Regions from separate parts of the Homo sapiens genome. Here regions 1, 3, 4, 5, 6 and 7 are each linked to region 2. Evidence: fine-mapped expression QTL. A gene starts in region 2. Each other region holds a variant in brackets. All regions are shown on one strand. Distances are between the middles of the regions.

What was found.
Region 1: its variant is fine-mapped to the expression of NPTX1 in whole blood (TOPMed, PIP above 0.99).
Region 3: its variant is fine-mapped to the expression of NPTX1 in sigmoid colon (GTEx, PIP above 0.99).
Region 4: its variant is fine-mapped to the expression of NPTX1 in lymphoblastoid cells (TwinsUK, PIP 0.95).
Region 5: its variant is fine-mapped to the expression of NPTX1 in whole blood (TOPMed, PIP above 0.99).
Region 6: its variant is fine-mapped to the expression of NPTX1 in unexposed skin (GTEx, PIP 0.97).
Region 7: its variant is fine-mapped to the expression of NPTX1 in whole blood (TOPMed, PIP above 0.99).

Annotation. Positions count from the first base shown.
Region 1 is chr17:80,665,532-80,669,531 of GRCh38, forward strand. The region is part of intron 3 of RPTOR (regulatory associated protein of MTOR complex 1); the gene reads left to right. Among named protein-coding and RNA genes, the nearest start is that of RPTOR, 120 kb to the left of the region's middle. The variant T/C (reference allele first, on the strand shown) is at 2,030.
Region 2 is chr17:80,474,637-80,478,636 of GRCh38, forward strand. NPTX1 (neuronal pentraxin 1) reads right to left here and starts at 1,971. Exons shown (of 5, transcript NM_002522.4): 1 at 1,367-1,971; 2 at 875-1,082. The coding sequence starts at 1,810. RefSeq lists an enhancer at 425-958.
Region 3 is chr17:80,521,786-80,525,785 of GRCh38, forward strand. No RefSeq gene overlaps it. Among named protein-coding and RNA genes, the nearest start is that of RPTOR, 21 kb to the right of the region's middle. The variant G/C (reference allele first, on the strand shown) is at 2,326.
Region 4 is chr17:80,788,968-80,792,967 of GRCh38, forward strand. It overlaps RPTOR (regulatory associated protein of MTOR complex 1), which reads left to right. Exons shown (of 34, transcript NM_020761.3): 7 at 2,483-2,542. Among named protein-coding and RNA genes, the nearest start is that of CHMP6, 200 kb to the right of the region's middle. RefSeq lists a silencer at 1,289-1,368. The variant A/G (reference allele first, on the strand shown) is at 2,452.
Region 5 is chr17:80,452,727-80,456,726 of GRCh38, forward strand. No RefSeq gene overlaps it. Among named protein-coding and RNA genes, the nearest start is that of NPTX1, 22 kb to the right of the region's middle. RefSeq lists an enhancer at 1,691-2,520 and silencers at 1,728-1,937, 2,198-2,457. The variant C/T (reference allele first, on the strand shown) is at 1,998.
Region 6 is chr17:80,689,764-80,693,763 of GRCh38, forward strand. All of the region lies in intron 3 of RPTOR (regulatory associated protein of MTOR complex 1), which reads left to right. Among named protein-coding and RNA genes, the nearest start is that of RPTOR, 150 kb to the left of the region's middle. RefSeq lists an enhancer at 3,942-4,000. The variant A/T (reference allele first, on the strand shown) is at 1,636.
Region 7 is chr17:80,573,294-80,577,293 of GRCh38, forward strand. All of the region lies in intron 1 of RPTOR (regulatory associated protein of MTOR complex 1), which reads left to right. The region is part of intron 2 of LOC105371922 (a long non-coding RNA gene); the gene reads right to left. Among named protein-coding and RNA genes, the nearest start is that of RPTOR, 30 kb to the left of the region's middle. RefSeq lists an enhancer at 2,056-2,350. The variant G/GC (reference allele first, on the strand shown) is at 2,232.

The sequences.
Region 1 (4,000 bases), 190 kb after region 2:
TTCCTTTCCTTTTCCTTTCCCCTTTCCTTTCCTGACAGAGTCTCGTTCTGTCACCCAGGCTGGAGTGCAGTGGCGTGATCTCGGCTCACTGCAACCTCCGCCTCCCAGGTTCACGCCATTCTCCTACCTCAGCCTCCCGAGTAGCTGGGACTACAGGCGCCCGCCACCATGCCCGGCTAATTTTTTTGTATTTTTAGTAGAGATGGGGTTTCACCGTGTTAGCCAGGATGGTCTCGATCTCCTGACCTCGTGATCCGCCCACTTTGGCCTCCCACAGCTGGGATTACAGGCGTGAGCCACCGCGCCCGGCCCCCCAAAAATTTTTCTTTAGAAATGATATAAAGTATGAAGAACTCTTGGAAGATCTTCGTCGGAAAGATGAAGGAAGTCTTGTTTGTCTCGTAACCCTGGAGGCCACTGAGTATCTCTCCCTCCCATCTGCCTGTGCCCGTGTATCCTGCGTCTGTTGTGAAATGTTTACCATGCCTTGACTGGGACTTGTGGGCTGAGCAGGGAGGACAAACGTTTTATTTTTAGTGACTGTCCCTCAAAGAGCTATACTTTCGATGCCTTTCAATATGAAATAGTAAAAATCTTGCCATTTGATATTACCTAAAATATTACTCTTCTCCAAAGTTGGTTTGCCAAAATAAATTATGTTTATTATCTACTCTTTCTCCTTGATATTATCTAAAATATTATTCTTCTCCAAAGTTGGTTTGCCAAAATAAATTACGTTTATTATCTACTCTTTCTTCTTGCTATGAGTTTAAGAAGACTCTTGTTCCCTCTCCCTCGATCAAGCCTGCTGCAGACACAGAAGATGGAGACTAGAAGAAGTGCTAGGACAAGCTACCGCTGTCTTCAGGGTGACCCTGAAGAGTTAGGTCCTTGCCGTGAGTATAGGTGAGGCCGAAACAAGTGACCCGGAATCTAATCACAGCCTGGGCAGAGTGTAGGAAGGGCGCAAGGATGAAAATGACTGCTTGGTTGGACGCAGCAAAATGTTGATTATTGGCCATATATGCGTCACTTTGCTAGTTGCTGTGGATATAACAATAAGTGATACCTCCTACTGGCAAAGAATTCTAAGTCTGATAGGGAAAATAAACATCATTCATTCATTCATTCAGCAAATGTTTATTGGGATTCCACTGTGCTTCAGCCTCTGTGAGCAGCGCCCAACATTGCCCCTGCTGTAGTGGTGCAGAGCCTCGTGGGGAGATGGGTGGCCGAGCAGTCCGAGAACCCACCTAAGGAGTGGATGGTAAACTGAGGCAGCGCCTTGAAAGGAAGAATGCTGTCTGTGAAGGGTGATGGCGAGTTCTCTTGACCAGAAGCCATGCGAATTACTGCCCGTGTCCTCTGATCGAGCCTTCTAGGCCACTACCGTATCCTCAGAGAAGGCTTTATAGTCCAGCCAACAGCACTCCAGGAATTGTCTACTCAAGGAATGCAGTAGGTGGCACTTGTTGAGTGCATTCTGTGTGGTTAGGACACTGATTCATCAGGGCCTGGATTTTCCCAATAACCCCGGGAGGAAGGCGTTCCCGTCTCCACGTCCCTTTCCCAGCGTGCCAGTGCTGATGGTAGGTTCTGCTGGATCCCTGCCCCGGTGCATGTTGATCTTTCCAGTACAGCTTGTTGCCCCCCAGGGAGGCAGGGAAGTAAGTCCATACCACATTGGAAGAGTTAGACGGGTCTTGGAGAGGCTGGAGGGGGACAGCCGGGGGAAGCTCCATAGAGGTGGTGACGTCTGAGCTGGGAGCGAAGGGAGACCAGGGCTGGGCAAGGTGGGCAAAGTGTGAGCAGACATTCCAGTGGAAGCCAGAGGAGCAGGCTGGACTCTGCATTTGTTCCTACTGGAATAAGGAACAGGTGTTTGAGTGGATACAGAATAAGGACTTGATCGCCTTCCTTGCTGACAAGTGCATCGTGAGGTGCTCTTTTTTCTACTCATCCCACTTTCGAAGTTTCTTTTTCTTGACTATTTTGACTTAAGATGCCCAGAGTTAATAAAGTTGCATAA[T/C]TTATCTTCCCATTTAAAAGATGTCAGTGGAAGTCATAGCAAATAGTAAGCCCTTCGCACCCATGACCTTTGTTTAGCTGAGTCTCTTGGGACAAAGATAACAAGTTGTTGACACACGGGAGAGAATGTTAGTATTCTTTGTGGTTTCATGGGACAAATATGGAGGCTCCTTCATTTGCTTGATACTAACTGCAGTTTGGACTTAAGCCTGCAGAGGTGATTGGAAAGATTTTCAGTGAAATGAGTGGTGTAATTGTGATTGTGATAATGCAGGTGACTGCTTTTCATTCATTCGGTTCCCACCGGCAGCCTGGCATTTAGAAAAAAGTTAACCTTTCTGTGAAATCATTTTAGTGGGAAAATCCACAAGGGTCTGCCATTCTGTCAGCAACAAAAATGCCGTGGGCAGAACGACCTTCAGATGGGATTCTGGAACCACAGGGGGTTTAATGCAAACAGATGACATGGAAGCTGCACAGAGGAAACGTCTGGTTTCAGGCGCGGGCATCTAACCTGCCCTGTTCTTCAGTGCAGGTTTCAGATACCACAGCAGTAAACAGTTACCACATTTCCCTTAGTGTAGCAGGCCTGAGGGGTAGCGGAGAGGCAGGTTGGGCCTCCACTAGACAAAGTTTATCCTAGTGAGTTCTTTTGGGTTCAACTTGTCAAGGAGGGTGGCTACTGAGAGGTTGCCTGATAATCTCCAAGTTTCTTCCATCTCCATCCATTTTTACTCATTACTAGCCTTTATAAAGTACAGAGTGAGATAATTTTCATCATGTTCCTAGGCTGGCAGGCCTGGGTTCTAAGTATTACTTGAGGTCATAGAGCAGGCTTGTGTTCTTTGTAGAAAGGCCTTTGATAGGTGGCCGCAGGAGGTCTTCGCGCCCTGTCCCCTCAGCATGCACTTGTTCTCCCAGAGTCGGCCATGGCCATTCTTCCAGGCTTCTGGAGAAAGGACCTCCTCACAAGCAGACAGCAAAATAAAACAATGACCAGTGTCAGAGAAGATGACACCCCCGTCTCCCATGTTTGCACGCCTCAGCAGTTCTCAGCCGTATGCCTATGCTTTTACAAGTGAAAACCAGCTCTTTAGGTCACTTGCGTCACAGGGATCTCCTCTTTTCTGTCCAGCTACCTGGCAGTCATTATTCCTCATTGTTTATTGTTAGAAACCTTTTGTTCAGCAGAGCGGCTGCCCCAGGGATCACAGGCAGAGCGGGTCCTGCTGGAGTTTAGTCTCAGGACAGCGGCTTGTCCGCATTCGGGTTTGAGCATGAGAATGTTGTTCCCATGATTTCAGAGAAGAACAACTGTTTTAAAGGTCAGATTTTATTCTGTCCAGTATTCTGTAAAGGACGAGTTGAATATCAATGAAAGAAAGAGCTTTAGTAGCTGTGGCAGTGCTGTGGGTCTGCTGCCTCCCGGGTGCTTCTCACACCACAGAGGCTGGAGAGCCAGGTGCCCCTGCAGCCAGGGCTTTGCTCGGGGACACGCTTGCCGGAGGCCAGGCTACCCTAAGTGTGCACCGAGGGAGGTGGTGGGACCTGCCCGTTCTGCTGGCTCAGCAGGAGCAGCCAGGGGCTGGGGGCTTCTGGGGCTTTCTAGGGCGTGGGAATGTGGGTAGGGGGCATTTCCCAGCTGCTGCACAGGCCACTGGTCCTGGCCTGCCTTCCCTGAAAGCTGAGTCCAAATTCTTCTTCTCTTGCCCTTGCACGGAATCTGTAAGTCACAGAACACCCGGAGTGCTGCCCTTGCTGCATTAATAGCACCAGTGGTTTCTGGGGAACTTCCCTGACCTCATCCCTGTTGCATACAGTAGTTCATTCTTTCTTTTTTTTGAGACGGAGTTTCACTCTTGTCGCCCAGGCTGGAGTGCAGTGGCGCGATCTCAGCTCACCGCAACCTCCGCCTCCCAGGTTCAAGCGATTCTCCTGCCTCAGCCTCCCGGGTAGCTGGGATTACAGGCGT
Region 2 (4,000 bases):
TTTCATTCCCCAATCTCCGCTCCTTCCCTCTCCCTCCCTCCTGAGGTCCTTCCTTCTGATCTGTTTTTCAGTTACATAACAAGCCTTAAGATGGCACTGTTTAAATCTGTCCGGCACATTTTGCGGTCTGAGCAGGGTCACGTGGCCTTGCTCCGCACCGGGCACCCCCCCCCCTCCCCTTTTACAACCTTGTTTGATTTCTGCGACTTCAAGACAGAGCCTCCAGCGCTCATCCAGGCGCCCTGGGTGATAGACTGGCTGGCCTGAGTTGGTGACTGAGAAACCTCAGGGATTTGAAAGATGCCAGGACTTGGGTCACTCAGAAAAGAAAACCTCAGGGTAGGGGTTCAGGACAGAAGTGGGGAGGAGCTGGAGATCCTGAGAGGACACCGGGGGCATGGCAGCCGGGAAGAAACCTGCTTAACAGCCTCAGCGGCCCGGGGAACGAGAGCGCCCAGCCCCAGCCTGCACCCAGCTGTACGCTGAGGCTGGGGACCAGGGAGAGACAGGCTTTCTTAAGCAGGGAGGGTTTGAGCCAGCGACAGCCACTGTGCAAAGTTACTGAGGATTAAACAAATCAGACTTGAAAAATCCAGCGAGTGTGTGAGTGTGTCTGGATGGGGGAGGGGGCACTATGCAATCCCCTTTCCCAGAGACAGCCCCAGCCCAAGGCACCCAGCCCTGATAGAAACACCGACTAGAAGCCCAGAACCTGGGAAGGGGTGCGGGGAATGAGAAAGCGGTGCAGGGGTTGGGGGTAGCGGAGCGGCTTGAGGCTTGCACAGTGCAGAGCTGGGCTGTTAGGGATCGGGACCGAGGCAGGGTCGGGCAAGCAGGTGCAGGCAGGCAGCACGGCTCCCCCTGGCCCCAGTACCTTTCTCGAGCTCGCTGATCCGCTGGTGCAGGGAGGTCAGGGCGGTCTCGATCTTGACCCTCTCCTCGGTGTCGTTCCTGGGGCCCCCCTTGCCCTCCTCCAGGGTGTTCACCCGGGACAGCACCTGCCTCTCCAGCTCATCGATCTTGCTCTGCAGCAGATCCTTGAGGCTGTTGGTCTGGCTGGAGGAATTGAGGCGGCTGTACTGCTGCGGGGTGCAAGGGCGGGGGAAACCACACCGTTAGGCGAGGCGCGGGGACCGTGCTGGAAGGCCCGCGGCGCGGTCCCCTCTGGGCGACTGCGGGGGCGGCCTGGCAGGGAGCTGGGGCGAGTGGCCGCCGCGGGGCCTCGCAGGCGCGGGGAGGCACCGGCCGGGCACCCGCGCGGCTGAGGCGAGGGCGGGGGATGCCTGGCCGGGTAGGGAACGGGGTGGGGGAGGGCAGAGGGGCGAGCGAGCCGGAGGGGGAACCGGAGCCGAGGGCGCGCGCGGACCTCGAGGTTCTCCAGGCGGGTTTTGAGCGATTGCAAAGTTTGCCCGAGTTGGCTGAGCGTCTCGGCGGCCGGTGTCCGGGACAGGTCGCCCATGGTGTTCTTGCCCGAGCCGGGCTGCTTGCGGCCGCCGCCCGCCCGGGCCTCGCCGGCTCCGGGGTCCAGCGTGCTCTGGCTCTCGCAGCGGCCCAGCTTGGCGGTCAGCTCGCGGATGGTCTCCTTCTGGCTCAGGATGGTCTCCTTCTGCTGCAGCACCGTCTCGCGGAGCTGCAGCACGCTGCTCCGGAGCTCCTCGGCGCCGCCGGCGGCCACGGACGCGGCGCACATGTCGGCGTCCACGGGCACCGAGGTGCAGATGAAGCGCGTCGGCCCGAAATCCTGGGCCCCGGCGCCCAGGAGGCAGAGGGCGAGCAGCGCACAGGTGCGCGCGGCGCGGCCGGCCGGCATGGCTGCGGGCACCGGGCGCTCCGGGCCCGGCTCGGCTCGGCTGGGGCTCGGCTCCGGCTGGGACCCGGCTCGGGCTGTGGCTCCGCGAGCGGCCCGCGCTCTGGGCGCCGCGCTCTTCGGCCGCGCGGTCCACACCGCCGCGCTATCAGGCCCCCACTGCCGCCTGCGCTGCGGAGCCCGCGCCTTTTATGCCGCCGCGGGAGGGGCCTCGAGCCGCCGACGTCAGCGGGGGAGGAATCCCGCTTTAATTGTCCGCGGCCCGGGCCCGCGGCGCGGCGGGGGTCTCACGAGCGCGCCACCGGGGCTGCCTCCGCTCGCGTCCCCCCCGCCCTTCTGGGAGCTGCCGCGGCCCCCTCCTCCCCCGCCCCCGCCTGGGCCGGCGCTGCTGCCCCGAAGGCTCCGAGAGCTCAGGGGGAAGGAAGTCGGGCTCCGGCCCCGGACTCGAGGATGGACCACCTGCGTGGTGTCCCCGAACCTCCGACGGGGCTCCAGGCGGGCGGGAAACCACCGCGTCCGGGAGATAGAATTCGGTTCGGCCCTCCTGGCTGCACTGAACACCCTTGGGCCGGGGTCGTTTGGAGCCGGGCTGGGTGCCCAAGGACCCAGGTCGTCAACACCCGAGTGCCCGGTGGTCAACGGCTCGGAGTGGGGCCTCGCGGCGCCACTAAGTCCAGAGCGGGGGTCACCGGGCCGCCCCGCGTTTCTTAGATGTCCGTGTGCTATTGAGAAGCCGCCGGGCAGCCTGGGTACAGGGACTTCCCACGGGTCGGGGCCCCCGGCGCCTCCCCTCCCCCAGCTCCCGGGCTCTGTGGACCCGGCCCCGTCCCCGGGGGACTGTCAGTCCCCACCCCGTGCGGGCGGGGCGCTGGGGACTTCTCGGAGGCAGACCTAGCTGATCGAGCCTTTCCTGTCCGCGGCGCCGGCCCGATCGCGGGCAGGCGGCGTCGCCGGGGCTGGACGTTCGCAGCGGCGCTTCGGAAGGGGGCCCCGCGGGAGCAGCCGCCCGCGTCTCCAGCAGCTTCCCCTTGCCAGGCGCCGCGCGCGCCCGGTATCCCCGGGTGTCCACCTGTGCGTGGGGGGCTGTTTCCCGTCTGTCCAGCCGCGCCCACTTCTCAGGCCCAAAGGCCAGCAGGAAGGGTCCCGGAGGTGGCTGGGGGCGTCCACCTGAGAAGCTCCGCTCTCGCTCAGACACCCCACCCGGCACCCGCGCACTCGCGCCTTCATCTGGACCGCGGGGCTCGGCTCCCGAGATCGCGGTCCGGGTTCCGGCGCCGGGCTGGGGGCTCAGGACCAGGGCTGGCGCAGCCGCCCCGCCCCGCCCCGCCCCGGGGCTATCAGAGCGGTCAAAGCCTCGGAAATCCCTCCGTCCACGCTCCCGTGGTACAGAGAAGGAAACTGAGGCTCCGAGACTGCGGGGCCGGGCTACAGCCGTGGCCCCCCGACCCCTCCCCGCCGCCCCCGGCTTCTCTGGTCTCTGCGTTCTGCAGCCTTTCCCTGCGCGCAGCCGGGGGCTGGGGGTCCCCAGCCAGCAGGGACCCACGGGCAGTCCCGGGTGCCGGGATCGGGCGTCCGCCCCTCGGGCGGGAGCAGAGGCCGGCTCGATGGAGACCTTTTTGAGAAATGGCGGCCTCTACCCGCCCCCCAGCCCCCGAGCGCCCGCCGTCTGCGTTCAGCATCTCAGCTTTTAAGCCTCCCTGAGCCGGGGCTGCGTTCTCGTTGTCTCCTTCGGCCGCCGCTTCCTGGCGCCAGAGGGACCCCGCGGCCCGCACGGGCCTGTCCTCGGCTCCGCTCGGAGGGTGTGCGGGTTCCCGCTCCGCTGGCCCCGCTTGCCCACCACGGCGCGCCCAAACCCACGCGGCCCGCGGCCCCTTGCGTGCTCTGCCGACCCCGGGCCGCAGGAGGGGTTAGCCTCGCCGGTCCCCACGCGGGGTCTGCGCCGGCAGCGCCACGGGCTGGAACGCGCCTCGGGAGAAATTACCCGCGCGGGGTCGCGGCGTCTTCTGCCCCAACTCCCGTAGGGAGCCGCTAGGCGGGTGCCCTCCTGGCCCCAGCGCTTTGGCCTCGCCGCCCTCCCGCACGCGTCCAGTGGGGAGGCCGCGCCCGTCAGGCCTGGAGCCGGACCGTGCCCAGCCGAGAGCGCGCGGGCGCGGGAGAGGAGCCCTGCCCTGCCCAGGGCAGGCTGTTTAGACG
Region 3 (4,000 bases), 47 kb after region 2:
TACAAAAATTAGCTGGGTGTGGTGGCGGGCGCCTGTAATCCCAGCTACTCGGGAGGCTGAGGCAAGAGAATTGCTTGAAACCAAAAGGCGGAGGTTGTAGTGAGCCAAGATCGCACCACTGCACTCCAGCCTGGGCAAAAAAGCGAAACTCCATCTAAAAAAAAAAAAATTGTAGAAACATACAAATAACATAAAATGTACCCTTGTACTCACTTTTGTGCACAGTTCCGGGGCATTTGGCTCATTCACATGATTGTGCAGCCTTCACCGCCATCCTTCTCCAGAGCATTTTCATCTTCTCAAACAGAAACTGTCCCCATGAAACATAAACTCTCCACCCCACCCACCGCCCCCAGGCCCTGGCAGTTTCCATTCCACTTTCTGTCTCTGCAAGTCTGACTGTGTTAGGGGCTTCATGCGAGTGGAAGTTGACAGGATTTTTTTTTCTTTGAGACGGAGTCTTGCTCTATCGTCCAGGCTTAGAGTGTAGTGGCTTGATCTCGGCTCACTGCAACCTCTGCCTCCCAGGTTCAAGCGATTCTCCTGCCTCAGCCTTCAGAGTTGCTAGGATTACAGGCGCCCGCCACCACACCCGGCTAATTTTTGGGTGTTTAGTAGAGACAGGGTTTCACCATATTGGCCAGGCTGGTCTCAAACTCCTGATCTCAGGTGATCCACCTGCCTTGCCTCCCAAAGTGCTGGGATTACAGGCGTGAGCCACCGCACCCAGCTCAGCATTTGTTCTTTTTTATTTGGCTTCTTTCGCTTAGCATAATGTCCTCAAGGCTCCTCTGTGTTGTAGCCTGTGTCAGTGTTTCACTGCTTTTCGAGGCTAAATAAGGTTCCATTGTATGGAGACACCAAGTTTTGCGTATCCGTTCACCTAGCAATGAACACTTGGGTTGCTTCTGCCTTTTGGTTGTGTATAAAGATGCCAGGAACATGGGTGTGCAAATATTTGTTCAGGACAAGTCACTTGGTGATGAACCAAGAAGGGGACAGGTGTGGAGGGTGGGGCTGCTGGAGCTGCCAGCCTTGGAGGGAAAAGCAGAGTGGGGGGTGGTGGGCTGGAGGAGGTCCGGAGCCTGGGGGAGGTGCAGGGGAGGGAGTAGGGAGTGGGGATGAGGTGGGCAGCAGCAGGGATATCTGTAGGAGACGCTGCCTTCCCATGATACCACCTGCCTTGGGCAGAACTATGTTTTCTCCGTAACTGGGGTCTCCCCAGCATTCCAAAGAGGTAGGGATATTTGGGGAACCTGAGAGCTGTCAAGAAACAGCTGTCAGGCAGCCGAACCTAGACTTGCTGGCCCATATTCAGGATTGCTTCCAAGGTCGGGATCAGCCAAGCCTGGCGGGAAAGAGGCAAATGCTGGTCACTGTCTGGCAATGCATGATGTGGCAAAGGGACTGGGCTGCTGTGATACAGAGCACTGCTCATATGCATGGGTCAGCTAATGCCTGGTAACAAACAGGACCTCAGGGGCTGCACTAGCACTCAGGGCTTAGCAAGTTTCTGTATTGGCCAGTTATTGGCACAATAATGATGAATGCCAAACCAGTCCCAAGCTCGGGGGCTAGCTCAGCATCACTGATTTCCTGGGCCTGTGGCTGGCATGGCTCTGCCTCACACCACAGATTGGGCTGGGTCTCCCACCCTCCTGGGCTCGCTCGGCTTACTGAGGCAGCTTCTTGTCCTGGTGACGGCAGAGGCAACAGAAGGCAAGCCCACCCACGCACGCACGTCTGCAAGCCCCTGGCTTTGCTCTGCCTGTCTTGCTGGCCAAAGCTAGCCTCAAGGCCACACTGGACGTCCAGGGTCAGGGAAGCAGATTCTGCCTATGTGGGAGGAGCTGCAAGTCACATGACAGAGGGCAGGGACACAGGGAGGGGTGGTGAGAATTGGGGCAAAGCTGCCACCTTTCTGGAATGTTCCAAAAGAAGATGGACGACTACTGCTCCTCGGCCCTGGAAGGGAGAGTTCTTTTTTCCCCACTATAAAGTTTTCTGATTCCAATTCCAAAATGCTATGACTCTTAATCAATGCCTGATGAACCATACTTGAGCAAACATAATTTATTCTCTGTCAAGATCATCCTGAGGGGATCGGGTGTCTTTGTTTCCCTCCTAAATCCCCTGCGAATTCATCTTTTTTATTCCAGGCTTACTAGGAAATAAAAGATTTTGTCTGAGGGCTGATGGGTATTAGCAGAGCTATATGGAGCTTGAGTTGAAACTTGGAATGTTTGTGGATCAAAACCGAGCTGTGCTGGCAGCGTCTGGGAGGAGGGTGCACTCGCTGAAACTCTGCCCGAGTTGTGGCTGTCA[G/C]CTGCCTCGACTGCCAGACCAGACTCGCTGTTTTGGGGCCGGGTGGGGGGGACGGCGGGGGGAGTGTTGTTACGGATTGTGCTGGAAGGTTTTCTTGCTCTTGGCTTTTTTGGTGAAGGGCCTGGATTACTGCAGAAAATCCAGCTTATGTGTCCAAGGGCAAAGCAGGCCTGTTTATCTTTAACTTTTACATGCTTCACACATCTCCTGAGGTTTGACTCTAAGCAGGATTTGTGTCTTCCCTGATGCAAGAAAACAGGAGGCAGGCGCTGAGCTTGCAGGAGGCCACACAGCCAGTGCACAGCTTGCCATATGCTTAACGTGGCTCTGAGAAGAGAGGGTTGTTTTTTTAATATTAAAAATGGCTATGGGAAAATCTGCCCTAATGCTATTAAGCAGTGCTGATATGAGATGTGTGTGGCTGTAACTTTCTGATTGGATTTGGGATCTAGGCTGCAGCCAGCCAGACGCTGGAGACACATTCCTGAGCCACCTCAGCCCTTGCCTCTTTGCCGAGCTGCGGCTATTCTTTGGGGCACGCAGGTAGATGCAGAGAGACTGAAGTCTTCAGAGGTGGGTGTGCACAGAAGAGTGATTCCCAGATCAGGGAAGACTTTGGCCCCCAGATGACATTTGGCAAAGTCTAGAGGCCTTTTCAATTGTCACAATTGGGAGGAGGGAGGTACAGTAGCATCTGGTAGATAGAGGCCAGGGACGCTGCTCGACGCCTACAGCAGATGGACTCACAGCCAAGAATCATCTGCCCCTAACATTATTCAGCCTTAACTTACAAAGGAAGGAAAGTCTGGTGCATGTGTGCTGTGGTTTGAGTGTGTCCTCTCCAAAATTCTGTGTTGAAACTTCATGTCCCTGTGTCCTAATTGCCTTAAGAGGTGATTAAGTCAAGAGAACGCCTCCCTCCATAAAGGGATTAGTGCCCTTATAAAAGGGCTTTGAGGCTGGATACAGTGGCTCACGCCTGCAATCCAGTACTATGGGAGGCCGAGGTGAGTGGATCACTTGAGCCCAAGAGTTCAAGACCAGCCTGGGCAACATAGTGAGACCCTGCCTCTAAAAAAAAAAAAACTGGGAGTGGTGTCACATGACTTTAGTCCCAGCTATTTGGGAGGCTGAGGCGGGAGGATCACTTGAGTACAGGAGGTCAAGGCCATGGTGAGCTGTGATTGTACCACTGCACTCCAGCCTGGGAAACAGAACGAGACCCTACCATAAAAATACTACTACTAATAAAAGAGCTTTGGTGAAGGGAGTTTGTCCCTCTTGCCTTTCTGCCCTCCACCACGTGAGGACACAGCGTCCCCCCCACCAGGAGGAGGCAGTGCTCCAAGTGCCATCTTGGAAGCCAGGCTGGACCCTCTCCAGACAGCGAACCTGCTGAGCCCCGGATTTCGGACTCCCAGCCCCCCTGGCAAAGGCCCGTGTTCTCTTCCAACATGGTCTAGTGGCTACATCTTTGGGAGGGGGCGAATGCTGAGGCCTCACATGGTGGACCCACTCCCTCTGGCCCTTTGATAGGGACCCTAATTCCATCCGTGAAGTCTCCACCCTCGTGACCTCATCACCTCTTACGGTGTCACCTCTTAATCCCATTACAATGGTGAGTAAATGTCAACATATGAATTTTTGAGGGGACACCATCATGCAAACCATGGCA
Region 4 (4,000 bases), 310 kb after region 2:
TTTTGGCTAAAATGAAGTTTGCATACTATCAGTGACTGATATATCCATGCTACGCTTATTCATATAGCCATGCTATAATAAAGTTGCATGATATTCCCATTTTAATTTTTTATTTAAGGGAACATTATATTTTCACTGAATTTATAATATGCTTATCTCCCAGCCAATAATTATTTTTATAATGTGTAAGTCTCTGTGTACTAATTCCAATATCTGGCCAACTATGAATCTGTTTTTATTGACTTTTTTCTCTTGATTTTAGATAGTATACTATCTGTTGTGGATGAGGCATTGTAGACATTCTAGATTCTGTTATTTTCTTTTGGGCAATTACACTGATCTTGTAGAGGCTTCGTTATAGGACTAGGCTCTTTTGGCTTTGATCTTAGTTCTAAGGTGTGGTTCATAATCCCTCTGGGGTGTCCATGTCCTCAGATGTGATCAAGCCCTGTAGTTTGGCAGGACCTGATCTTCTCTGTCTTCACAGTGGCAAGCAGATGTCAAAATCTCTACTCTGCGTTTTCAACCTTCCTGCTGTCCTCCACGGGGATCCTGGGAATATTATCCTGTGTGCGTGCCCTTCAGGAGCCAGCCTCCGACTCGGGGAAGGTTTACATGAGGGTTTTGGCTCCCTTCTTCCTAGGGCTTTTGCCTGCAATATCCAGGCAGCCTTGAGCATGGTCTCAACCCAGTAAGGCTGCTGCCTTTCAGTCGCATGCTAACCCCCACATGACTTGTGAGTGAGGAGCACCCTTGGGAAAAGCCAGATGAAAGTGATTCATGCAGAGTTACTCTCATTTTCTAAGGGTCACGGCCCTTCCATTTCCTGCCTTCCTGCCTGCATTTGTTTGTTGTTCAGAATTTTCAAATGGCTTTTTAATATTTTGTCCAGAGCTTATCATTATTGGCAAAAGGATGAGTCTGATATAAGTGATTCTGTCATTACTGGACTCTAGAAATCCCAATCAGTAAGTACATTATGGATAAAAAGACAAAGTAGCATGGTTCGCATAGGACTCAGATTTGAAAATGCATTTCCTGTAGATCATTTTTATCCACAGAGAAATTCTGGTTTGCCTGGGACCACCGTAGGAGCTGCATGTGTCTGTGCTGGTGCAGAGGTGTCTGGGCATGGCTGAGGAGAGCATCTGCAAGTGAAGCCAGCAGAGGAGACCACTCAGAGTGGCACTGACTGGCTCGGGGAAGCACTGGGGCCACACGGGGCACTTGATGCCGTGGGAAAGGGCTGCTCTGTAGCTTCAGGCAAACGTGGGCCTCACTTTTATTTTCTCAGCTCTTTGAACGATAAAACACTGACTACTGCAGCCACAACCAAGAATATAACTTCCTCTCTGCTGGCTGAGCCAGGTATCACTTCTTGAGAGAGTGAGTGTGGCTGGCAGCCATGCATGGGGTCCAGGATGACCAGCTCAGCCTCCCCTCGCCCTGCAGGGCTGCAAAAGTGAGACTGTCTTCACACCTCTGGCTCGTTGTCTTCCTGGTTCTGGATCTCTCAGTTCCTCTGTGTCTTTTTCTCCCATTTCCTATCCCACTGCTATGGGTACCCTCCTGGGTCCACCATCCCCCATAGAGGAGTCACTGCCACGTCTCCCCCGAACGTGCCTGACCCTTGCACTGCACCCTCCCCTGGGCCACTGTCCTTCTCCATCACTCACTTCCAGCCAACACTTCTGCCATCACTCACTTCCAGCCAACAGTCCGCGAGTGTGTTTTGGAGATGTGCATACTTGCTCTGCACCTGCCATTATGTTTTTAAGGGGTGTTATTTGTTCTTAATTTTAAAAGTAGGTGAATTAAACATTTTGCATTTCTCCTACTAAAAATACTGCATTGCCTTTTTACTCTGCTGCCTCGATTCTGCCCACTGTATGCCAGTAGCCCGGATGGGAGGAGAGATGCTTTCCTACCTCCTGTTGGCGCCACGTTAGAGAAAGCCTGTCCGGCTCCACACGCGCTCCTAAGGATGGACCTGCGTCAGACATGAACCCAGCTCTGACCTGTAGGATTTTATGATTATGAACATGATATAATTGAATTTGCATTTCTTTTGTGTGTCTTGAGGCTACTCATTTATTCTACTCCAGCAGTCTCCCCAGCTCACTTCCTTAAGAAGGAAAGAAGTGGCAGGTCCAGTCCACTCCAGCATCTCGTTTGGAGACTGAGCTTTATTAAGCATCTCGGCGCTCCTCTCCAGGGACCGGGCTTCATGTGGCTGCAAACGGCTTCTCTCCTTTCTCCTGACAACTCACTGTGGCAGCTCTGTAGTCTCACGCCTTGACAGAATGGCAATGAGATTTTCTTTACAAATCTAAAAGCTGCCGAATTAAGGAAATCTGAGTGTACTTGTTCACCGTGGTAGTCCCTGTCCCCACCTTTAACTCTTCCCTTTTTCTGCAGGCCTGTTGAATTTCCTGGGTGACTGTTCCATTC[A/G]TGCCGTTCACATTCTTTTCTTTCTCTGCAGGTTTTGCATGCAGAAATGTGTCAGTCTGGTGCCTGGCGTCACACTGGATTTGATAGAAAAGTAAGTAGGATTTTTAAGCTCTTGTGGCTCTCTGGATCTGATGAGTTTCTTTTCCTTTTTGAAGGCTCTTGCTTCTCAGAAGTACTTTCTATCAACATGGCATGTTCCCTTTCATGTGGCTGTGTTCTTTTGTTCTCTGATTAAGGCTGTGTTTGTGATTGTCACACTGGGGCTTAGTGCAGGAGATAACCAAACATGGGCCATATGAAAAGAAAAATAATAAAAAGCTGAATTCCTTTGAACATTTAAAAAGTCTCCAGACTTTAAGCCAAAGCAAGAACATACCACTTCGCATACAAATCATTTCTGCTGCCACTGAAATGATAGCTAGATCATAGCTAGCTCTTACCTTATTTTCTGAAACTGTCCCTTTAATATTCTGTAACTTTCCATCCCCTCCCCCCCTGTCGCCATCCAGTTTCCATTTTACTATCTCAGGGCAAACTGATTTCAGAACCTGAGCGATGAAGTGACGGGATTTAGTCAGGCCTATGAAGAGTCAATGGCACTTGCCTCCCATAATCCTTCCAGTCCCATTGGCCAACCCGTCTGTCCCTCGCGTGATCTTTTTGGATCTGAAGTGGTGTTTCAGGACCCGGAGCGTGGCCTGCACTGCCTTGTTCTGTTTGTTTGTGCACCGGATTCATCGTGACTCATCCTGAGTCATCCAGGCAGTATGGAAGAACTTTGGAGTTATTTTAAACCCTTTGGCTCAGAACCCCATTTCTTCTAGAATTAACATGCAAGATAATTGTTTTCTACATCTTAATATACAAAGTTATATCTTAATATTAGGGCCTGAATTTACTAAATTAGGCAGGAAAAGCAACCCCACTTCCAAGTTTCTCTTGTAAAAACGTGCTTGCCTTGTGTATCAGGGGAAAAATGCAAGAATATTATGTGTAAACGTTCATGAGGGCACGGTGAGCTCCGTCGTGGTTCACTCCCACCGTGGAAGGTGGCTGTGTGGCCAACAGGAAGGCCGGGGAAGCGACACTGGTCCTGATGTGGAGTGGTCTACCAGATGTGCTAAGTGAGCAGTCCTCAGCATGGGTACCTAACAGAGCTCAGTGCCCAGAGGCTTTCCAAACAGTGCAAGCTGTGACTTAGAAGACTGTTTCCAAAGGCTAAACAGATAGTGGAGGCTCTCAGAAGCATCACGTGGAAAATAACTTTAAAAAAAAAATGGGACTAGATGATCTGTGCTCCCCTCCCCTTCTGGTTGGTTTGGTTCCCTGACGAGACTGCAGTTTTGCGAAGCTGTTCTTGAGATCTGTTTACTGGTATTGCTGTGCGCTTTCTTTGGGGCTTTTATTTCCCCCTCTGTTTTCTGAGTTTTAGAGCTCTCTATTACCTGTAACGTATATATTGCCCCCGCCACCCCTGCGCCCTCCCCACACACACACCGGATGCGTATCCCAAATCTAAAAATCCAAAATCAGGAATGCATCAAACTGT
Region 5 (4,000 bases), 22 kb before region 2:
CTGTCCGGACATTTGCATGCAATTCCGGGCAGCCCCGGATGCTTGTCTGGCTTCCAGCCTGGGAAGTGGCATCGAGCCCTGGGAAGAGGACAGGCTTCACGGCCACAAAGAGCTCAACTGAAGATCTGAATCCTGCATTTAGTAGTGGTGTAACCGGGGTCAGGGGCTTTCTGAGCCTGTTTCCTCCTCTGTAAAGGAAGGCTAATGTGTAAATGTGAGCTTGACATCTAGAGCCACATCCAGCACAGAGGAGGCGATCAATGATGGCTGGCTCCTTCCCTTCGTCCATGGCTCACGCCTTACACCTGCTGCTCTAGGCAGAAATGCCCCCCTGAGAACCCCTGAGAGGACTTCCAGAGACCCCACCCTGGAAACTGATCCCACCCTCCTCCTTCTCTGTGACTTCCACACAGCCTCTTCCTCATCATTCCTTCCTACCAGACTAAGGGGCCTTGAGGGTGATACCAGGTGTTCTCCAGACAATTCAACACCTAGCAGAGTGCTGCGCGGGGCTGCCAGCATAAATCAATGACATCTTTCAGCCCAGAGGGTTCTGAGAGTGATTGCATTTGACAGCACTTCCTGAGGCGCCCCTGGCCTCCTGAGGAATGAGCTGTTCAGGGCATCTGGCAAGCAGACACCAGTCCATGCTGGCACCCTTCCTTCTGGAGAGTCACCCAAGGGAGCCACCGATCGCTGCTAGAACTGGAGCAGAGTCCTCAAACAACAGTCTGCACACAGACAAGACCCGGGATATTTCTTTGATCCAGCTCCTGCCTTACAGGACTTCATCTTCACCCATTCCTGAGGAAGGAGAGAGGAAAAAAAGACCTCTCATACACCCCCTCAGTCTAGTGTTTACTGAGCACACACTGTGATCTGGATAAGAGAGAAACTCTGCCGTCTTGGTGCTTTCAGACAATACACATCAAATTACATTATCAACGATGCTGGATGGCGCTAAGAGCCGGGGAGGGAAAGCAAGGGAGTACAGGCCACAGACCGTCCTGGACTTCGAGTTTGACTTACATTTTGGCTTTGCCATGGTACAAACGCCATACACATTCAGTATACTCCTCCGCTTACAGATGGGGTTACATCCGGATAAACCTACCGTAAATTGCCTTACAATGCTTTAACCTATGATGGGTTGATGGGGAATCTAACCCCATATGACAGGAGCATCTGTATAGGAAGGGGGCACGGTTTTCAACAGGTGGTCGCCTCACTAAGTGGGAGTCACAGGGTTTCAGGGGAGGAGCGTTCCAGGCCGCGGTAACAGCAGGTGCAAAGGCCCTGAGGCAGGACGGGGCAGGGAGGTCCAGAGTCCACCGCGCAGAGACCCGGGAGGCCGGCAGGCACGGTGAGGACCTTGACTTAAACCCAGGAAAGGGGAACCACACTGGGGCATGACCTCCTGTACTTTCCGAGATCGCTCTGGCTCCTGTGTTGAGGAGACTCAGGAGGGGAAGGTGGAAGCGGGGAGACCCAGCTGAGACGCTACTACAGTCATCTCGGCGGGAAAAGACGGCTCGGAGCAGGGTGGTGGCAGAGGTGGGAGAAGAGGTCAGGTCTGGGGAAATTTCGAAGGCACAGCCAACAGGATGTACTGCCGGGCTGGATGCGGGGTGTTAGGGGTCAGGGAGGCCGCCAAGGCTCTGCCTGAGAACTGGGGAGGGCCAGGGGCACCATTTACGGAGCTGGGGAACAGCAGGAGCTCGTTTTGTTAGCAGGTGCGAGGCGCCGGGCATTTAAAGGCGGCCTGACGGGACCGGCCGAGGCGGAAGAACGGACAGGGCCCTGCGGGACCGCGCTCGGATCCGCCTCCTCCCTGACCTCGGCGTCCCCGGCTACTGCCTCCAGAGCCGCTTCGGGGCCGACCCCGGGGACTCTTCCCGCCTGCGGCCTCGCGCCAGCCCGGCCGGCTCGCCTAGTGCCCGGCGCCCAGAAACGCGTGGAGCTGGGAGAGGCCACACAACCCACGCCGGAAGCCTAAC[C/T]CCGTCGGCCCCCGCGGCCGGCACCGGCCGGAAGCCCGCGAAGCCTAACTCTCGCGAGACGCCTCCTGAGTCCCGCCTCTCCGCGGTTCCGCCAGTCGCCGCGCTCCTGTCTGCGTTGCTGTGGCAGCCCCGCCGTGCGTCCGCGTTCCCGGAGCCAGCGCGGCGGCGCGCCTGTGCTCGGGGCTTGGCCGTAGCTTTTCCTCAGGTCCCGCGCGGCGCGCCCCTGTGTCGCAGGCGCCCTGCCGCTGCCCGCAGCTTTTGGGGGGTTCGGGGGCGGGGGAAGCAGGGCCGCAGAAGGCCCAATCGGAGCCTTCTGACACCCGCCCCGGCCCGCCGCCCTCCCGGAGCTTCCGTCCCCGCCGCCTGGCTCCTTACTGACACGCGCGCCGCCCCCGGTCGCCCGTTTTCCCTGGGCTCCGGCCTCCTCTCGCTTCCAGCCCTGGCCTGAGGTCCTGAGGGCTCCCTGGAGGGGGCGGCTTCCCAGCACCCAGCGTTTAACAGGGCCCTTTCGGCCTCCCTGTCCCCCAAGCTCAGAGTTGGGGTCTGCAGCAGGGGAAAGAAGGAGGGAGACTGGGCAGCTCAAGTTCCCCAGACCGCACCTATCAGACGGAGGGCGGCCCGCTCCCGTCAGAGCCCGACCTCGGCGGACAGGGGAGGGGATGGGTTGAGAAGCGGGAGAAGGCCACTAGCTGGAAACTCCCTGACGACAGGGACACCGTTCTCGCCCCAGCCCCAGCGCTCGGCCTCCGCAGAGCCGGCCCAACGAAGGAAGAATGAAAATATGAACGTGACATGATGTGGGCTTGAGAGGCCGCCTTGTTCTTTGGATTCACCCAGAAACCTGACTGAAAGGAAAGTTACTGCAACTGGGGAAAAGCACAGTTGGCTGGAGAATTTGGTTTAAAAATAAATAAGTTTTAAATTACGTAACTAACACGTGCTTGGTGTAGAAAATTTGGAAAACATATGAAAGTACGGTATAAAAATCCTCGATCCCACTGCCACATAGAACCACTATTAACATGTCAGAATCGTTTCTTCGGGTGTTTTTTTTTCTTAATGCATTTATATTGCATATACATTTTTTCTCTAACAATATATTGATGTGCCCCAGTCCCCCACAGACCCTAATGTATGAATGGGAATGGAGGCGTCTGAAATGTGACTCACAAAGAGTTCTCTTTCCTCCCTAACACCCCATCCCTGCCTCACCCCTTCAGCGCATTCACAGCAGCACTGGGACTCCGGACTCAGACAAATGTGCACTGAGCTGGCTGGTGCTCTCATAGCCTCTGGCCCCAGAGCTCCACCTTCCCCTGCAGAGGGGGTCCCGGGAGTGTCCTCAAGTGCTCCATGCCCCATGTTCCTTTCCATGGCACCAAATTCTTCTGACCTCCTTCTAGGTGAGGGGTGAGGGGGTGAGGTAGGGGGTTGGGGAAGAGTGTCCCCATGAGGCCTGAGGGGCCTGCTAGTGCAGGGGAGGAAGGGAAGTTCAAGCAAGCAGGCTCAACGGAGGGCTCCACCCTCCAGGTACGGCCAGGTCCTGGGAGAAGGAGGGGAAGCAGTCTGGTCCAGGAGAGAGGCAGCAAGGGCAGATGCTAAGCCTTTGCCTCTGCACTCCCTGGGGACCTCTGGGGACCCCCCCCCCCACCCAGCACTAGTAATCAAAGGAGGACAGACACCTACACACGTGTCCCATATGTCTCACCCTAGCAGGCAGCGAGAGGATGCCCAGTGTTACTCTGGCCCCCTGGAAGGCTAGCTTGCTCTCCTGGGCACAAGTCAGAAGCAGTGTGAACTGGAGTGGGTGGTGGGGGACACCCCTCCCGGTGAGCCCCCCCTCCGACCCGGCTGTCAGTGATCCACAAGTCTGGCCCATCAGCCCTCCCTGCTGAGCACACAGTCCACTGACCCTTCTTCAGAATTGTGGGAATGACCTCACTGCCCCTCCAAGCAACGTGTTGTGCTGCCGCCCACATCAGACATCCGGGGAATGGACTGCA
Region 6 (4,000 bases), 220 kb after region 2:
GTTCATTTTTAAAATTTTTGATCAGTGCCCTCAAGCATTCTCCTATTCAATAGAAAACATATTTTTCTAGGTATGATAATCTTTCAGATTTTTGGTATGTGTACCTTTGCTAAAAACACATTTAATATTTCTACCTGTCTGGACACCTTTTAAAAATGTCTGGCTGCACCTTGGAGAAACGCTTCATGCAAGCAGATTCTAATTAAAGTAGGAAACTTTACTTTACCATTAAGTTATATGTAAAAGCATTCTAGGGGAGAGTCTTTTAATCATTGAAACATTTTCAAACGTGTTTGCTCATTTGCTTCTTTATTTGTTTTTATGGCTTATTCATTTGTTTATTTTTAAACTTTTTATTATGAAAAATTTCAACATATACCCATCATCTATCTTCAGTCATTTTCAGCTGCCAGTTCCAGTCTCCTTTCATCTGTGCCCCCACCCAGTCCCCCCTTCCCACTCCCCTGGCTGATTAGGAAGCAAATCCCAGACTTCATGTAATTTCACCTGTCAATATTTCTGAAAGAAATATTTACTTTCTCTAAAGATAAGTATGCTTCTAAACACACACACACACATACACACACACACAATGTTTGTTTGAATCAGGATGCAAGTGAGATGAATGTATTGTGAGTTACTTCATCTATTCTGTTAATCCATGTAATTAATCCAAAAGTCAGTCCCTCACCCCAGCACTCTCTGTGCACCTGTCTGCCTGTCTCTTTCTGCAGTTGATTGGTTGAAGAAACTGGATCATGTAGCCTGTAGAATTTATCGTGGTCTCGATCTCGTCAGTGGCTTCTCCCCCCTTGCCCTGGGTGAGCCACACTCACCTCTGCTCCTTGGATTTCCTCTCGGTGGTGGACACAGCCGGGCTCCCCTAGATTCTGGTTCAGTCAGGGAATGTTTCATGTGTGGTGCTGTGTCCTTACTTTAGGATATCTGATAGTCCCTCTGTGATATTAGCAGCTATTGATGATCATTGTCTGGATCTATTTATTAGAGATTATGAAAAGATGGTGTTATTGTTTCATTCCTTTTTTTGCAACAGGGGATCTCACTTGGCCACCCAGGCTGGAGTGCAGTGGCGCAAACATGGCTCACTGGAGCCTCAAATTCTCGGGCCCAAGTGATCCTCCCACCTGAGACTTCCAAGTAGCTGGGACCACAGGCACATGACACTATGCCTTGCTAATTTTTAAATGTCTTGTAGAAACAGGGTTTTGCTATGTTGCCCAGACTGGTTTTTAATTCCTGGCCTCAAGCAATCTTCCTGCCTCAGCTTCCCAAAGTGCTGGGGTTACAGATACGAGCCACTGTGCTTAGCTGTCCTTATTTGTTAACTGGAGTATCTCTATATAAAGAAACCCTCTCATCAATTATTTGGATAGCTCAAGGTACAGTCATAGAGGAAAGCCAGCATCAATACTTACTTTCCTTTATTAACCAGTTTTCAAAATCGTGTGTGGGCTTCTCTCAAAGGTGACTAGTAAGGGGTGTGTGGGTGTGATATGTGTGTGTGCATGTCGTGTGTGTGTGCATGCACGTGTGTGCATGCATAGGTATGTGTGTGGTGTGGTGTGTGTGGCCACCCTGTTGAAGGCACTACCTACTGTATTCGTTTCTCACTGC[A/T]TCTCTCAAAGGTGACTAGTGTGGGGGTGTGTGTGGATGTGAGTGATGTGTGTGTGTGCACGCATGTCAGTGTGTGCGCATAGGTGTGTGTGGTGTGGCGTGTGTGGCCACCCTATTGAATGCATGACTTACTCTATTCGTTCTTCACCGATGTCCACGTCGTTCCATCTTTGTGTTGGCCCCTGAGCCTTGTGATGCAGTTCTCGCGGTCCTCAATTGCTTCATTTTGATATGGTATGACAAGCCAGCATGTTCTGTGCCATTTTGTACTTCTTCTACCCTAGGCCTGAAATCAGCCACGTGTCTGTCTCCAGGGAGTCTTGGTTTCCTTCCATGGGAAGTGGTATGGAGAGCTTAATCTGGGCTCCAGGGCTGCTCATTGACCCTTGTTCAGCCCCCTTTCTCTATGGGTGTTTCAAAGATAAAATACGAAGGCGCTCTTACACATCCAGGTTCAGGTCTGCAAGGTCTGCTTACTCTCATGGGTCCTACAGCTGTATCTGCTTCTTTCCACATGGAGTGCTCAGATTGTTCATGAACACCAACGTAATTACCCATTCTCTTATCCTGCACCACACCTGGCAGTTTCAGAAAGCAACACCAGCACTGCCACTGACGCGGTTACTGAGAGCCGCTGCCGAGGCATAGCCGCTGCTGAGGCACTCGCCCTTCCTTCTCAGGTTAGGCACAGATGTCGAGTGACATTACCCTGTATTTTTATTTATTTATTTTTGAGACAGGCTCTCACTGTGGCCCAGGCTGGAGTACAGTAGCAGAATCATAGTTCACTGCAGCCTCAACCTCCTGGGCTCAAGCCATCCTCCCACCTCAGCCTCTCAAGTAGCCAAGACTATAGGTGCACGCCACCATGTCTGGCTACGTTATGTTATGTTATGTTATGTTATGTTATGTTATGTTATGTTATGTTATGTTATTTTTTTGAGATGGAGTCTTACTCTGTTATCCAGGCTGGAGCGCAGTGGCATGATCTCGGCTCACCGCAACCTCCACCTCCCAGGTTCAAGCGATTCTCCTGCCTCAGCCTCCCAAGTAGCTGGGATTACAGGCACATGCCACCATGCCCAGCTAATTTTGTATTTTCAGTAGAGATGGGGTTTCTCCATGTTGGTCAGGCTGGTCTTGAACTCCTGACCTCAGGTGATCCACCTGCCTTGGCCTCCCAAAGTGCTAGGATTACAGGCGTGAGCCACCGTGCCTGGCCTAATTTATTTATTTATATTTTTAGTAGTGATGAAGTCTTCCTATGTTGCCCAGGCTGGTCTTGAACTCCTGGCCTCAAGTGATCCTCCTGCCTCAGCCTCCCAAAGTGTTAGGATTATAGGCATGAGCCACTGTGCCTGGCTGGATTACTTTTTAAAAAAATTAATTTTGCTTTGTAGTTATGTAAAATATTTCATGAGTCCAAAGTTAAATACACAAAATGAAGTTTATTGAAAGGAGCCTGGCTGCTCTTCCTGTCCTGGTGAGCCTATTTTATCTTTTCTTCTGTAGGTCACCACTGAAATGTTTTAATAATATGTGTACCACATGTGATGACACGTATGCGTAACCTTGGGTACATTTATATACGCACACACGCACACAGTGTTTTCTCTTTAGGGAAGTGCTGTATGTTGTACATGGTTTCTTCTACCTTGCTTCTTGTTGCTGTATTAGACTGGAATCCACGTGTCCTCATTGGAATCAAAGCTTCATTGTTTCCTCTAAAGCAGAGTTTCTCCAGCTTGGCCCGATTGGCATTTGGATCAGCTAATTCATGATTGTGGTGGTCGTGTGCTCATGTGCTGTGCGGACAGTCACAGGATGTGTAGCAGGTCCCCAGGCCATTGCCATCAGATGCCAGCAGGGCCCACTTCTCCCAGCAGTGCCGACCGAGCCTGTCTGCAGACAACACCAGTGCCCCCGAGGGCAGAGTTGCTCCCAGCGGAGATGGTGTTTCTCGGGTTCATTGGGGGGATTCTGAGCACCCATTTCAGAAGTGGATTTGGCCCCATCTGGAAGCAATAGCTTTTCTTTTTGGACTTTGAATAATAAACCAGCTATTCTAGTTCTTGTCTGCCTCTTCTGCAAATTAAGGAAGGAAGGAAGAATTGTTACTGAATAATACATAAAGGAAAGAGTCGATGATTTTACAAATTTCACGTAACTCTGCCCTTACTGGGCAGACACGTGTTGAGAACATTACGAGTTACTGTGACCTTGTAGTCCCTTTGGGTTCGGTGTACGCAATTTCCTACTCTCAGCATCTGCCAGCCCAGACTCTGGCAGACTTATGCCAGCCCTGGGTGCTGTAGGGTCAGCCACCCCCTTCCACGCAGGGTGGGCGTCCAGATGGTGCTGTGGG
Region 7 (4,000 bases), 99 kb after region 2:
AAGAAAATTTGGGGGGTATTTGATTGGGATTGCACTGAGCCTATACATCAATTTGGACAGATTTGATATCTTTTCAGAATTGAGACTTCTGGTCCACACACATGGCATATCTCTTATTTAGATAGGTCTTCTTTAATTTCCCTGAATTAAGTTATATGCTTTTCCCTGTAGAGGTGTTGCCCATCTTTTGTTGGAATTCTTTTAAGTACTTGATATTATTTTGATGCTGTCCTAAGAGGCAACTTTAAAAAATTTAAGTTTTTAGCCTGTTATTTGGTAGGTATATAAGAGTAAAAATTATTTTTTATATTGCTTTATATGCAGCATTCATGATATCTCCATGTCATCAGGAGCCCTGGCAGCCATGCACACAGCTTCCTGCCCCCTTGATCCTGAAGAGTGTGTAAGGCTGCTGGGGATCGGATGCAGTTATGTAAGGGGTGTGGATGCAGAGGAGCCAGCCGTGGTTTCATGCTGGTCTTGAGTGTCATTCTAATCATGAGGCCACCTTACACCCCTCTACTCCAGGACATCCCACAGATCAGAAGGCTCATGGGAACCCAGATGGAGAACCAGCTCCTAGCACTGGCCTTCCCCATTTATCTTAACTGGTGCATTTCCAGGGCAGCAGGGCTGCAAGAGTCAGCCCTACAGCTGTCTGCCCACATGCCTGGGTCGGGGGAAGTTTTGGGCTTCATGTCAATTCTTGAGTTCCCGAGAGTTCGTGTCCAGGTTGGGAATAACTTGTCCCACAAATGCCTGGTAGAACTTGCCCATAAGGTCATGTAATCCGAAAGTGTTGTTTGTAAAAAAATTTTTAAAGTTCTGATTTAAGCTTTTAAGATGGTTTTTTTTTTCTTTTTTCTTTTTTTTTTTTTTTTTGAGACGGAGTCTCGCTCTGTCGCCCAGGCCGGACTGCGGACTGCAGTGGCGCAATCTCGGCTCACTGCAAGCTCCGCTTCCCGGGTTCACGCCATTCTCCTGCCTCAGCCTCCCGAGTAGCTGGGACTACAGGCGCCCGCCACCGCGCCCGGCTAATTTTTTGTATTTTTTTAGTAGAGACGGGGTTTCACCTTGTTAGCCAGGATGGTCTCGATCTCCTGACCTCATGATCCACCCGCCTCAGCCTCCCAAAGTGCTGGGATTACAGGCGTGAGCCACCGCGCCCGGCCGGTTTTTTTTTTCTTTTTGAGTCAGTTTTGGCAAGTTACATTTTAAGAAGACTTTGTCTATTTCATCTAGGTTTCAAATTTATAGGCATAAAGTTGTTTGTAACATCCTCTTGTGATCTTTTTAAAGTCAATGGGACTGTAGTAATGTTTCCTTTTTATTCCTGACATTGAGATTTGTGCGTCCACTCTTTTTTGTTGTTGTTTTTTTGAGACAAGATCTTGCTTTGTCACCCAGGCTGGAGTGCAGTGGTGCGATCATGGCTCACTGCAGCTTTGAACTCCTGAGCTCAAGCGGTCTTCCCCGCTTAGCCTCCCAAGTAGCTGGGACTACAGATGTGTGCCACCAAGCCCAGCTTATTTAATTTTTTTTTTTTTTTTTGTAGAGACAGGGTCTTCTTATGTTTCTTAGGCTCATCTTGAACTCCTTGGCCTCGAGTGATCCTCCTGCCCTGGCCTCCCAAAGTGCTGGGATTACGGATGTGAGCCACCATGCCTGGCCCCCTAGTTTATTTTATATCTTATTATTTCCTTTTTTCTACTTTCCTTGGGTTTGTTTTATTACCTTTTCCGCCATTCTTGAGGGGGAGATTCTTGAGATGAGTACTTACCTTATTAGTTTTCAGCCATTTGTCTTTTCTAGTGTATGCACTTAGCATTTAGAAATGTAAATGCTTAATGGCATTCAACAAGTAGTAGTTTTTAAAAATATATTTATGTATTTCAGAGACGAGGTCTCCCTGTGTTACCCAGGCTGGTCTTGAATCCTGGCTCCTTCCGCCTTGGCCTCCCAAAGTGCTGGGATTATAGGCATGAGCCACCATGCCTGGCTGGATATACAGTATTTTTGTTCAGTTCAAATTATTCTCTAAATTTTATTTTGACTTGATCAATTTATTATTTAAAAGTGTTGTAATTTTTAAACATAGAAGACTTTTTCTAGGATTTATTTTTGATTTCTTAATTGCATTTTGATCAGTAGACGTCTGTCAGCAGGGCAGTAGCAGGTGCACCGCACGTCTGTAGGGGGAGCCATCCACACCGTTGCCATGTGCGAATGGC[G/GC]CCCCCTCGTGTTGTGGATGGTGTAGGTTGCACCGCTGTGTGCACACGTGTGCATACATGCATGCACACGCTTGGAATTTCAGCTGCTCTGTCCCTTATAGGCCCGTGCGTGGTCAGTTTTTGTAAATGTTCCCTGTGTACTTGAACACGATGCGTGTCTACAGCTGTTGGTGCCACCTTTTATACGTGTCCATTAAGTCAAATATTTTATTTGTGGTGTACAAATCATTTACACTTTACTGATTTTTTTGACTGTTTCTATCAGTAACAGAGAGGTGTATTAACACTTCTCACCATCATTGTAAATATGTCTATTCTCCTTATTAGACATATTTAGATAGAATTCTCTGCCCATTTGTGCTTCATTTATATTTTGAGGCCATATTGTTGTAAAACTGTTGTATCTTCCTGGTAAATTGGAGTCTATATTGTTGTAAAGTGACTCTTTATCCCTAATAAAACTTTTTGCCTTACAGTCTGTTTTGTCTCAGGATAGTTACACCAGTTTTCTCTTGGTTAGTGTCAGTCTTGTTTATTTGTCCTTTTATATAAGTCAACACTTCTGTAGCCTTGTATTTTTCATATGTCTCCTATAAACAGCTTGTAGTTGGATTAAAACAGATCAGTCTGATGATTTTTGTCTTTCAGTTGGAGCACTTAGTCTACTTACAGCCATTGGGGCCTAAATCTGCCATCTCTTTTGTGCTTTCTATTTGTCCTTCCTGTAATGTTTTTTTAAATGCCTTTTTATAGATTGAAAATATTTAATTTCTTCCCTTTTACTATTTTTGAAGCAGTGCACTGTTTTTCTCTTGTAATGGTTTCTTAGAAATTACAGTAGGAATACTGAAAAAAGTACAACGTCCGTCATGACCTTTATTCTTTTCTTAGACAACCCAAGACTTAGGAAATTATTTAATCCGTTTGTTTCTTGTATGTGAGTATTGCTGTGTACAGTATTTTATTTTTAACATCCCAAGTTACCATCCTTGTTTTCGGCAGTCATTGTTCTTTCAGGCTGATGCACATGCTTTTGACTCTTCGCTCTCCTTTCCTTTAGCGTCTCAGAACTTTCCTATGGGGCCACCTACTTTGACTGAAAGACTTCAGAATTCTTTTCTCATGACGGTCTACTGATGCCACATTCACTTCGTTAGTCTGAAAATATCTTTTTTGTTTGTGTGTTTTTGTTTTTTTGAGACAGGGTCTCGCTCTGTTATCCAGGCTAGAGTAAAGTGGCATGACCTTGGCTCACTGCAACCTCCACCTCCTGGGTTCAAGCCATCCTCCCAACTCAGACTGTTGTGTAGCTGGGACAGCAGGTGTGTACCACCACACCCAGCTAATTTTTGTATTTTTTGTAGAGACGGGGTTTTGCCCTGTGGCCCAGGCTTGTCTCGAACTCATGGGCTCAGGCGATCCACATACCTTGGCCTCCCAAAATGCTGGGATTACAGGCGTGAGCTCCCATGCCTGGCCTCTGAAAATGTCTTTATTCAGTCATAATTCTTTTTTTTTTTTTTTGAGATGAAGCTTCGCTCTTTTTGCCCAGGCTGGAGTGCAGTGGCACGATCTCAGCTCGCTGCAACCTCTGCCTCCCAGGTTCAAATGATTCTCCAGCCTCATCCTCCCAAGTAGCTGAAATTACAGGCATGCACCACCATGTCTGGCTAATTTTGTATTTTTAGTAGAGATGGGTTTCACCGTGTTGGTCAGGCTAATCTTGAACTCCTGACCTCAGGCAATCCATCTGAACTGGCCTCCCAAAG